3 linked regions of the Homo sapiens genome follow. The protein of the gene in region 1 interacts with the protein of each later gene in a pairwise test. Each region holds a gene or a part of one and is shown in the gene's direction. Other genes may lie near its edges. The genes, in order: MACROH2A1, SREK1IP1 and ZNF622.

What was found.
Region 2: the proteins of MACROH2A1 (region 1) and SREK1IP1 interact in binary tests that used the Homo sapiens proteins (3 or more experiments, as listed by UniProt).
Region 3: the proteins of MACROH2A1 (region 1) and ZNF622 interact in binary tests that used the Homo sapiens proteins (3 or more experiments, as listed by UniProt).

What each region holds. Positions count from the first base shown.
Region 1 is NC_000005.10:135,392,612-135,396,439, reverse strand, and holds part of MACROH2A1 (core histone macro-H2A.1), read left to right. Parts: intron 1-3,828. UniProt on the Homo sapiens protein: Variant histone H2A which replaces conventional H2A in a subset of nucleosomes where it represses transcription. Nucleosomes wrap and compact DNA into chromatin, limiting DNA accessibility to the cellular machineries which require DNA as a template.
Region 2 is NC_000005.10:64,719,906-64,723,733, reverse strand, and holds part of SREK1IP1 (protein SREK1IP1), read left to right. Parts: 3' UTR 1-3,828. UniProt on the Homo sapiens protein: Possible splicing regulator involved in the control of cellular survival.
Region 3 is NC_000005.10:16,463,715-16,467,314, reverse strand, and holds the start of ZNF622 (cytoplasmic 60S subunit biogenesis factor ZNF622), read left to right. Parts: upstream 1-1,514; 5' UTR 1,515-1,649; coding exon 1,650-2,274; intron 2,275-3,572; coding exon 3,573-3,600. UniProt on the Homo sapiens protein: Pre-60S-associated cytoplasmic factor involved in the cytoplasmic maturation of the 60S subunit.

The sequences.
Region 1 (3,828 bases):
AAACAGGACAAATCACAAAGGATTCTGGTCAGACCCACACTTTATCCTAAGAGCAACTGAAGGGTTTTGAGCAGGAGAGAGACAGGATCAGGTGTTCTTTTTATTCTTATTGGGAACACGTCTACTCGGCAAATAATGAGTGGATTCTACATGCTAAGCCTTATCAGAGTCCTGTCCTGTGAAGCCCACACTTTAACTTTTCTCTAAATAGCCTTCCGTGAGACTGGTTATCTTAAGAGTTTGGCACAACCTTTAAAAGAGAGAGGAGTATGTAGAAAAGTTTTTTTGTAAAGCAGGCAGGCAGTAACTTGCTGTTAAAATGTAGCAAGCTGCACAGTTCCTTCAGTGCATCTCGGGAAGCGCATCACCGAATGGGTTTGCAGAGGTGAAATTTCAATCCCAGACTAGCTTCCCCAAAACTGTTTCTTGCTTGTGGTAAATGACATTTGTGTTTGTGTTTTGTTTCTTCCTGCCACTGAAAACATAACAGGAGTAAGACACATCTGCTGGAACAAAATGCATGGTTTATGATTTATTTACTATCTCAGTTGGTCTGTCTCTTCTGTTTGCAGTCCCCTAGTTCACTGAGAGTGGACTGTAGGTTCTTTAATCATCTGGCTCACTTTTTGATATGGTGTTTTATGAATGGAGAGAGATATTTTTCCTGATTGGCTAGAATACTAGAACAGGTCTCTGATCCAAGCCAATCAGAGTGCAGCTTGTGAACCCCAGCTCTGTGAGCAATGGTTGTCTAGTATATCCACATGCCTCTGGGGACATGACAGCGGGTGACACCGTTAATCATTTGGTGTGATAGGAGTAAACGGAAGAGGGAAGAGAATGCTGTAAACAGGATTAGTGTCTTGTCCTTCAGAATTAAGTTTCTCAGGTTGGCCTTTGTGATTGGAGTTGATGGGAAGGTGACAAATGCATGTGGATATGCGGGCATTTATCCAGCTGCCAGAATGGATGGCGTGGTTCTTCCTCATCAGCAGTTATTTGAGCACTGATAGCTCAGACTCCTCTATCCTCAGGGGCTGGAGATAGGGCTCTTTGACTAGCAACTCCCCAGCAGTTCTAATCAATATTGCATGGGATCAATAGGCATGTATTCATTGCTTAGATAATAAAATACTTCATGATTGACTATTCCAGCGGTTTCATGAGTGCCCTGATTGTTTAAGGGGTTTCTGTGCTGTAGCTTAAACAGGAGTCAATCTCTTATAGATGTGAGGAAGGTTAAGTATTTTCCTGCAGTCTATGGTACTGAGCCAGAGGCAGGAGGAGAGGTCACTGGAACCATAGAACTGTCACAGAGTCATAAGGCCTCAGTGTGCCTTATGCCCAGCTATCAGGGCAATTGGAGTGTTCCTTTCCTGAGAATCCCCAAGGTAGCTCTACAAGCTCCCTGAATTTTGAGTGTCTGGGCTCCTATAGGGATTTTGCCAGGTGTATGTACATGAATGTCCAAGAGAAGGTCTCTGATTGGTGTCCCACTAGCCATAGCTCCCAGTCCTGTGGGCTTTGGAAATGCTGCCCTCTCCTTTCTCCCTATCCACTGTCAGTGCCAACTAATCAGCTACCTTGTAGCTGGCATGTGCATGTCTACCGGGTGCCAGGCAGGGTGGTGGGTGCTTGGAGATACAGTGGTGAGTAGAGCAAATTGGTTCGTTTCATCAAGACAGACAGGTAAATAGGCAATGATGATACCATGCACTGAGTGCTAAGAATGGGATAGCTGGTTTCAGAACTTATATGTAAATGGGATCTAGAGTGACTGGCAATCATGATGGAAGGAAGGGCTGGAAACTGCATTTGCAGAGTACTGTATATAAGACTAAGAAAAATAATTGAGTATATTAAAGAATAGGGGCAGCCTGAGGGAGATTGTGAGGCACTTTTAGCTGGGCCCTGGGTCTGCAGCTGCCACATCCATTGAGGGAACTGGGAGGGAGAAATTCATCCCGGTGGATCTCTGGTTGTTGCAAATAGAGAGATGTGTTGGAGGTCAACAGGGCCTGTGCACAAGGTTGGAGTCTGGACATGCAGCTGCCCCAAACTAGACTGTGACTGACAGAAGGCATGGCCATGGCAGGAATGCAGAAGAGGGAGCACATTGATGGATCATTGCCAGGGAAGGTATTGGGACCAGTAGGCAGGATTACTCCAGACAAAGGGCTAGAGAGATGTTCAGACTGAGCATGCTGGGTGTGCTGAAGGTGCCAGTGGGAATGAAGGTGGTTTGCAGTGCAGGGAGCAGCCTGTTAGGATGCCTGCTGGGAAGGGATAGGAGGGTGTGGCAGGGCCTCCATGGCACTTTGGTTCTTTGCCCCTACTGCCCCTCCTAGTAGTACACAGCTTGTTGTTCTCATGTCCACCTTATTCATGGGGTCTACATAGCCAGCCTTCTAATTAGTCCTGTGCTAAAAGAACTGACTGCGTTGCTCCAGTCGCATCTCGATTGCTGAGGGGCCTGTGGTCAGACTCTGTTGCTTCTCACTGTAGCCTGACTCATCTCTCCATCCAGCTCCTCTATAAAAGTTTGTCTTTGGGTAAGCTTTGAGGTTTTATAAACAAAGTTAATGTTTATTGTGATTTATAATTGGAAGAGTTGCAGAAATAAAGACCACAGAGATCCCTTCAAGATCAATCACAGAACCTTCATTTTCTAGGCCAATAACAGCCAAAAGGGCAGTCAAGCTAATGTGCAATGATGAACAGACACAGTTGCCTGAGGACCTATCATTGTTTTCAAAGCATGCAGAGCCATGAGTGAAGCCTCCTGGTTTACTGAAGGAAGGAAGAACACATCTTTGTCAAGTTTGACCAGATAGTATAGCTGTTCTCCTGTGACCAGCTTCACTGCCCTGCAGAGGTGATGAGTGCTTAGGAAGCTGCTTTGTCTATGATGTAGGGCTGTCTGTTTCTCAAACAAGGCTGGATGCAGAACATGGGTCAAACAGGGCCCAACAGGTTTTGGGTGGTAACTCATTCTGGGGTTAGGGTCAGCGTTCAGATTGGTTTATCATGTGACAGAGACTGGCTGTTTCCTCTTTTCTTCTGAGTAAATAGCCAGAGTACATTTCCCAACCTCTCTTGCAATTAGTTGTGGGCATGTGACTAAGTTCTAGTTGATGGATCATGGTCAGAAGTGATGTGCCCCATTTGCAGGCCTGGCCCCTTAAAACCCTCATAGGTTATTATCCATGGTCTTTTTCTTTCCATGGCAACCCTGGGAATCATGTATTGAAGATGTGAGAGTAACAAGATGGGAGGCATCTGGATCCATGAATCACTATGTGGACAAGAAACACCAGCCAATCATGGAAACCCATTTTGGATTTTTCGGGAGTGAGAAATAAGTTGTAGAGACTTATCTGTTACAGCAGCTAGCAATGTCTTCAGCGCAAATGTCCAAGATCTGTTCTGCAAGAAGATGGCCTTTTTTCATCTTATTCACATTATTGTTTTTGTTAACTACTGAGAACTTGCCCAGTGAGTGAGTATCAGGCCCTTACATGGATGCTTTGATTCACTTCTGCCACCAACTCTTTGAGGCCCTTACTAGCATCATCTCCACTTGAAAGATAAGAAAATAGGTTCAGAGGGGTTAAATCACTTGCTCAAAAATGCACAGCCAGTAAGCGGCAGAGCCATGGTTATAATCAGGTCAGTCTGGCTTTGGACTTCTAGTTTTTAATTATAATGCTTAATTGCCATTGGCCTCACAGTCACTCTCCCCCTTGTCATGGGTGCCTGACTGGAGCTACCCACACCTGCATAAACCTCTGAAGAGCAGGATGGACCTGGCACATTCATGGGTTTATC
Region 2 (3,828 bases), about 71 Mb from region 1:
AGTACCTGCCTCCTTTGTTTTTGTAATAATTAAAATACTTCTTGTATAAAGAGATTAGTTCAGCCTGTTAGTAAGTCTGCAGAGATGATGCTGAGTTGGTTGTGATTTTTAGAATAGACTCCTGGGTTGTTTTACAAATGTGCCATATTGGCATGTCTTACAGTGATACCTCAAACACAGAAATTTTTATTTAGGAAGATAGCTAAATCTTTATTAGAACTGATTTTTATTGTATTCAGTATAAATTTTATGAAGCTTGTTTCTATGAGTACTGTGGAAAATTTTATAAATGTGAGCATATATATTTATTTTGTCTGACATAATTTGTAGTTTTAAAGCAAGTTTCACACTGAACTTAACGTTTTCATAAATGACCAGTTTGGGATGTTTCTCTCTTTTACTTTAGTGGCAAACTCAAGAGTAAAAAGTGTCAAAAAAAGAATTGAGAATTTTATTCTGTACTTTTTAAAATTTAAGAGCCAGGGAGTTGCATCATGAAAGCCTTTGTATAATAATGGAAATTTTATATGGGTAAGCATTTTCAAACACATATTAGTAGATACGTTTTTTAAATTTCTATTTTCACATTGATCAGTGTTACTTTGCTTAATACTTAGGTAGCCCTTATGTCCACTAAAGTAAATGCTTATGTTGTAGAAGCATCGAACATCAACCAATGTCATGGCACAGCACCAAAGATTGCAAATACCTCACTATGGTGCGCTTAGAAATTTTCAAATTGATAACCTATAGATACGGCTGCAGGTGAATTCATGATAGTGAAATCAGCTAAGTATACTTAACCTCACAGGCTAGAAAGGTTTACTGATTCTTGTTTCACCTGGCACCCAATGTGGATACCCTCAGTAAGACTCAGGGAGCCTTATAACTCCTCTTAACATATGCTTACCCATGCTTAAATTCTAGGGAAGCTGTATCCACAGCCCTCTGCATTGCAGCCATGAGAGCTCTCACGCTTTCAACCCTTCCATAACCTAATTTAGTCATTTGGGCCTCTCAAAAGGAAATGCTTTTGTTTAAATAGGTCAGTCAGTTACTGGGAGAAAAAATACAGAGCCAGTAGGTTTTTAGGGATTTGTTTTGCCTTTGCTGCTAGTTTTTTGAAAATATTCTTCGATTATCAAGATTTTAAAAATCGGTTTTTAATATAAAGCTTTTTTAAAAACGAGGCTGGCACAAGTGCAGTGGTGTTTCTTTACTCCCACTGCTTGACTTGACTAGCCTTGAAAAAATAACAGTAAAATAAAATATTAAAAAATAATTAGAAAATGCTACAAAGGCAATGACCTTATTCCATTGAGTAAGATAGTTAAAAATGATAGTAATTGTAGTGAAATAGTTAATTACTTGTAAGTTTTATTACTGTTAATTGTAGAGATTATAAATTGGCTCATTAGGTTTCTGAATGGTGACACAATAATGACTGAGAAGAGCAAAAGTCAGTCCTCGTTAACTAATGTAGTATGCAAATTAAAATATTTTAATGATCAGTAATTTTCCCCCCAGAAATGATGTTGGCATTTCTAAGTAAATTTCCCATAATTTTAGCATAGTTTATGAAATTGAATAAAAATTTATTTTCACTGAAGTAATTTTCTTCTAATATGATATTATTATTGAGATTGGATGCAAATCTCATGAATATGTTTTAGAAGAAAATTAATGAAATTCCCTCCCAGGCAGTATGTACCAGAAGGAAAACTGAATTTAGCAGTAAAACAGTCCTGGTCATTCTAACTACCTGTATGATCTTGAACAAAGTCACTTAGTTTCCCTGGGCCTTGGTGTCTTTCGTCTATAAAATATTGTACCAGATTATCTCTGAAATCACTTCAAGGTTTAATATATATAATTATCAATATTTTAAAATTCAAGCAATATTCACTTTAGAAATTATTATAACATTCTATAATAGTAAAGGTTGAATTTATTAATATAATAAACACGTTCAACTTCTTCAAGCAGATAATTGATATTTGGTTCATATTCTTACAACCTAATGCATGTCATTTTCACCAAATGCAGGCAGAATTTATATTTAGGTTTGCATCTGGAACTAGATTATCTGGCACTTTATGGCCATTATTTTTGGGTTGATGGACCTTCTCACCACACAATTTCCCCCTTTTTTTTTTTTGCATATCATATGTTGGTTGATATTTCTCAGAGGTATCCCTATTTCTTCATACTTAATATACATCTCCATTTACATCTTTGACTCTCTGAGGTCAAAACAACAATAAATGAGAAGTAAAACAACTATATGTGTTTGTATTTACAACTGTATCTAAAATTATATAACCCTAGTTTACCTTCAGAGTAAACTAGGCTGAAGAGTTGTTAATAATGTTGATAAAAATGCCATTGAATCCTTTCTTCAACAAATATTTATTGAGTACCTAACGTGGCAAACGCTGTGCTAAGTACTGGGGATACAGAGATAAGTAAGACACATTTGCCTCCCTGAAGGACTTCACAGTGTAGTTGGTAGGAGAAACACCAGAGCATACACCGTTATATAATTAGTGCAGTAATTGACATGAACATGAGTTTATAGAAACTCGGGGTTACCTAAAGTAGTCTGGATAAATTAGAAGAGGCTACCTAGAGAAAGTAGTGACTGAATTGCAATTTGATTAAGGATAAGAATGAGGGTTATGGCAGTTCCTGACAGAGTGGGTACTGTGAACAAACACCAGAGGTAGAACAAGCTGTGTTATGTGTTTGTCAAGAATTACAAGCAATCTGGTGTTGCTGGTGTATCATAGGCGAGGCAGGAAGTGGTAAGAATTGAGACTACCATTTTAAGTTCTTAGGAACAGGAGGAAGGAGTCGTGTGTTCCGTGTTTGGGAGCTTGAACTGTAATGTGTAAGCAATGAGACACCATTAAAGAGTTTCAAGGGGGGCCGGGCACAGTGGCTCACGCCTGTAATCCCAGCACTTTGGGAGGCTGAGGCGGGCGGATCACCTGAGGTCAGGAGTTCAAGACCAGCCTGGCCAACTTGGCGAAACCCTGTCTCTACTAAAAATAGAAAAATTAGCCGGACGTGGTGACAGGCACCTGTATTCCCAGCTACTCTGGAGTCTGGGGCAGGAGAATCGCTCAAACCCAGGAGGTGGAAGTTGCAGTAAGCTGAGATCACACCACTGTACTCCAGCCTGGGCGACAGAGCGAGACTCTATCTCAAAAAAAAAAAAAGATTTTAAGGAAGGAAATGACTTTTATTAGGGTTTGGTTTTATCAATTTCATAATCCGATTAATCCCACCATTTTTAAAAGATGAAATTGCTTTCATTAGAAGGCTACATAAAATATAATTTGATTATTTTAGGCTCTATTATTAGACTCACATTTCTTTCTACAGTCTCATTATTATTTCCAAAAATTACACAGTAACCTAAATCATCTAAAAACACATAAAGCTACTGTATTCTTTATTAGATCCATCCCCAGAGTTATATGTACATGTACATACTTTGAGATGTGTTTTGTTCTTAATTGTATTTTAGGTTATTTTTGACTGACTTAAATTCTATCACTATTTTAATATTTGTTAGGTCCGAATAAACCATTTAGAATATTTTTCAGTGTACAAAATGTGCTGTAATTTAATAAGGCCCCTTGCTTTTAAAATTTGGCTTAACCTGTGAAGCACAACTGCTTCAGAGTTACAGAGAAACATACCAGTTGGTCCACTGGATGAGCCCTGTGGTTCTACCTCAGGTAACCTAGTGATAAGCTAGCTCAGCAGGGAGTGCTTCAAGGACTCCAGCTGATCCTAGTGCTGAGACCAAAACTTCCTGGA
Region 3 (3,600 bases), about 120 Mb from region 1:
GAGTAATGGATTTCTGACTTTCTGACTTAGTACCAACTAAAGTGCTTGTTAGAAGAACATCAAATGTGTCATTGCGACTCAAGTAGGGTGAGCAGGGTAGAGAAGGGGGTGTGGCAGGACCTCAGAGGGAGGGGTAGAGCCTCGGAGAATAGAAAGTAAGGTGTTTGAATTTGATTGAGTCAAGGGAAGGCACTGGAAGGTTTTTTAAAGCGCCATCTTCTTTTGGTTTTCTCTTGGCAGCCTGGATTCTGAGCATGCAACATTCGACTCTAACAAGGCTGACTCTGGTTCAACCAGGCTGTGTGGATGAAATCTACGACCTCCCCAAGCATTTGAAGTTCATGTTTTCTTTTTCTTTTGAGATGGAATCTTGCTCTGTTGCCCAGGCTGGAGTGCAGTGGCGCGATCTCGGCTCACCACAACCTCCGCCTCCCGGGTTCAAGCGATTCTCCTGCCTCAACCTCCCAAGTAGCTGGGATTACAGGTCTGCGCCACTGCGCCGGGACTAATTTTTGTATTTTTTAGCAGAGACTGGGTTTCGCCATGTTGGCCAGGCTGGTCTTGAACCCCTGACCTCAGATGATCCGCCCGCCTCGGCCTCGCAAAGTGCTGGGATTACGGGCGTGAGCCACCGCGCCTGGCCTGAAGTTCTTTTCTACAGAACTTTGCTGTCCTATATACATGAGGGTACACAGCCAACTGGGCACCTGGCACGGGTCTAGTCCAAATTGAGATGGGCTGTTAACTCTAAAACACACACTGGATTTCCAAGACTTAGAACCAACGACAGAGCGTAAAAGATCTAATTAATTCTTTTAGACTGATTACATGCTGAAATGACAGGATGGGCTAAATTAAACACATTAAAAGCAGTTTCACCGATTTCTCTTTACTCTTTAAAAATGTGGCTGCTATTAGAATTACCTACGTGGCTTGGACTGTGTGTCTACAGGGAGCTCCTCTCGCGCACTCTGTGCACTCAAATTCCGCCGGTGTCCTCCGCCGGAAGGGCCGCCTCAGAAAGGCCGAGCCCCCGGCCTGGCTTCTCCGGTTTCCCGGGAAAGCGTTGCAACCACGGGCGAGGGCTCCGAGGTCGGCCCCGAGGGGTAAGGGCAGCCCTTGCCTTCGCGACATCCATTCACCCGGCTCCGCAGGTGCAGCGCGCGGTCCTCAGAGAAACCCCGACCCTCGCGTCGCTGACCCGACCATTCATTAATCGGGGGCTTCCCAGGGCCCAGGAGCAGCCTCGGGCGCCCCACTCCCCCATTCTCGCGTAGCCGTCCCCTTGACCGCGTCACACCGAGCGGCACAACCACCAGGGAAGGTAACTGGGAGGGCGCGACCTCCCTCAATCAACAGCCACCTCGGGCTGACTGAGCGGACCCAGGTCCCTTTCAGCCACAGCGTTCCCTCGGCTTCCTGGGCCTCACGGCGGCGGAGGCGTGGCCACAGCCTGAGAGGCGGGTTTCCTGTCCAGTTGTGAATAACTTCCGACGTGTGCCGGAAGTTTCCTCAGTGACAATCAGGAAGTCGGCGTGTCGAGTGGCTCTTCCTGGCTGCTGAGGCGGGTTAAGGTCTGAGGGTCTTGTGGGGCCACGGCGCTGATCACCAGGTGTTTGGCTTGGTCGGTTCTTATTTCTCGCCTGGCAATGGCGACGTACACCTGCATAACTTGCCGGGTGGCGTTCCGCGACGCGGACATGCAGCGGGCCCACTATAAGACGGACTGGCACCGCTACAACCTGCGGCGGAAGGTGGCCAGCATGGCCCCAGTGACCGCCGAGGGCTTCCAGGAGCGAGTGCGGGCGCAGCGGGCCGTCGCGGAGGAGGAGAGCAAGGGCTCGGCCACCTACTGCACCGTTTGCAGTAAGAAGTTTGCCTCTTTCAACGCCTACGAGAACCACCTCAAGTCCCGGCGTCACGTTGAGCTGGAGAAGAAGGCCGTGCAGGCAGTGAATCGGAAAGTGGAGATGATGAATGAAAAGAACTTGGAGAAAGGACTGGGCGTGGACAGTGTGGACAAGGATGCCATGAACGCGGCCATCCAGCAGGCCATCAAGGCCCAGCCGTCCATGTCTCCCAAGAAGGCGCCCCCAGCGCCTGCAAAGGAGGCCAGGAATGTCGTGGCCGTGGGTACTGGTGGCCGTGGGACCCACGACCGAGACCCGAGTGAGAAACCACCCCGGCTCCAGTGGTTTGAACAGCAGGCGAAGAAGTTGGCAAAGCAGCAGGAGGAGGACAGCGAGGAGGAGGAAGAGGACCTGGATGGAGACGGTGATGGCCCTGTCTGGGCGGGGAGGGTAAAGAGGAACTTGGCCCACCCTTAAGTTTCCAGATTTATACTCGAGATGGGTGTGTGTGTGTGTTTGAGAGCTTTTAAGTAAAAATGATGAGGGAAGGTGGTTTAGACGCTTTCTGAAGTGCCTTATCTGGCCAGCAGGTTTGGCTGTTTAGTTCACTCAATTCATTCTCCAAGGCCTAAAACCTTGTCTGGAAAAAGAAGTGCTTAATGCATATTTGGAGAATGAATTGATGCCTTCTGTGTTTTGGATGAAGAGGCTTTTAACATATGCACAGGAGGACATGCTATCGTCATACCAGCTGCCGTGTAATTTGCGATTCTAGTGGGTTTCCAGTTATGATGGTTTTGCACTTAATTTAGTTGAGTAAAACAGAATGAGGGGATCAAAACCAACTCAGCCAGAAATTTGGAGCTGGAGCCAGCACCCTCACCTCTTTGCCTTTATGAGCTATTTATTCCTTACTTCCCTCATCCCACATCCTATTAACAGTGCTGGTGTAGGTGTTCATGTCTTAGTCTGTCCACTCTGCTATAAGGAAGTACTAGAGACTGGGTGATTTATGAACAACATAAATGTATTTTCCCATAGTTCTGGAAATTGGGAAGTCCAAAATCAAGGTGCTGGCAGAGTCAGTGTCTGGTGAGGGCCTGTTCTATAGATGAAGTTTTCTCATGGTGTCATCATGTGGTGGAAGAAGCAGAAGGCAAAAAAGGGGCTAGCCAGTTCCCTCGCACTAATCCATTTATTCAGGATTAGTGCTTGCCTAACCTAATCACCCACTAAAGGCCCCACCTCTTAATGCCATTTCATTGATGATTAAGTTTCAACATTTGAATTTTGGGAGGGAAACATGCATTCAAACCATAGCCGTTCATAGAGCACCCTACCAGCACATACACACACCCCATAGTACTTTTGTGAAATAGTAGATAGAGGCATTGTTTTAGAAGTTTATAAAAATATCCAGGCAGGTAGGAGACTTCCTAACTATATTTTCAGCACTGGGCTAGGTGCTGTAAGGCATAGGAAAGAAACAAAGAAAAGATTCCTGTTTCCTGGAAAAGAAAGACTAAGGAGTTTCATGGCCATTCAGATGAGTCTGTGGTAAACAAATAGCTAAAATTGAGATCTTGAAAGAGGAGTTGTCCTTGGGAGTTGGGGTGTGGCTGTTTCTCCAAATATAGGACTGTATCACCTCGTGAATTTTTGTGATATCTTTGCTTGCTACTACTTTTCTTAAACTTTATATTTCAAAATTCTGGCTTGCAGATTGGGAAGATATTGATTCTGATGAAGA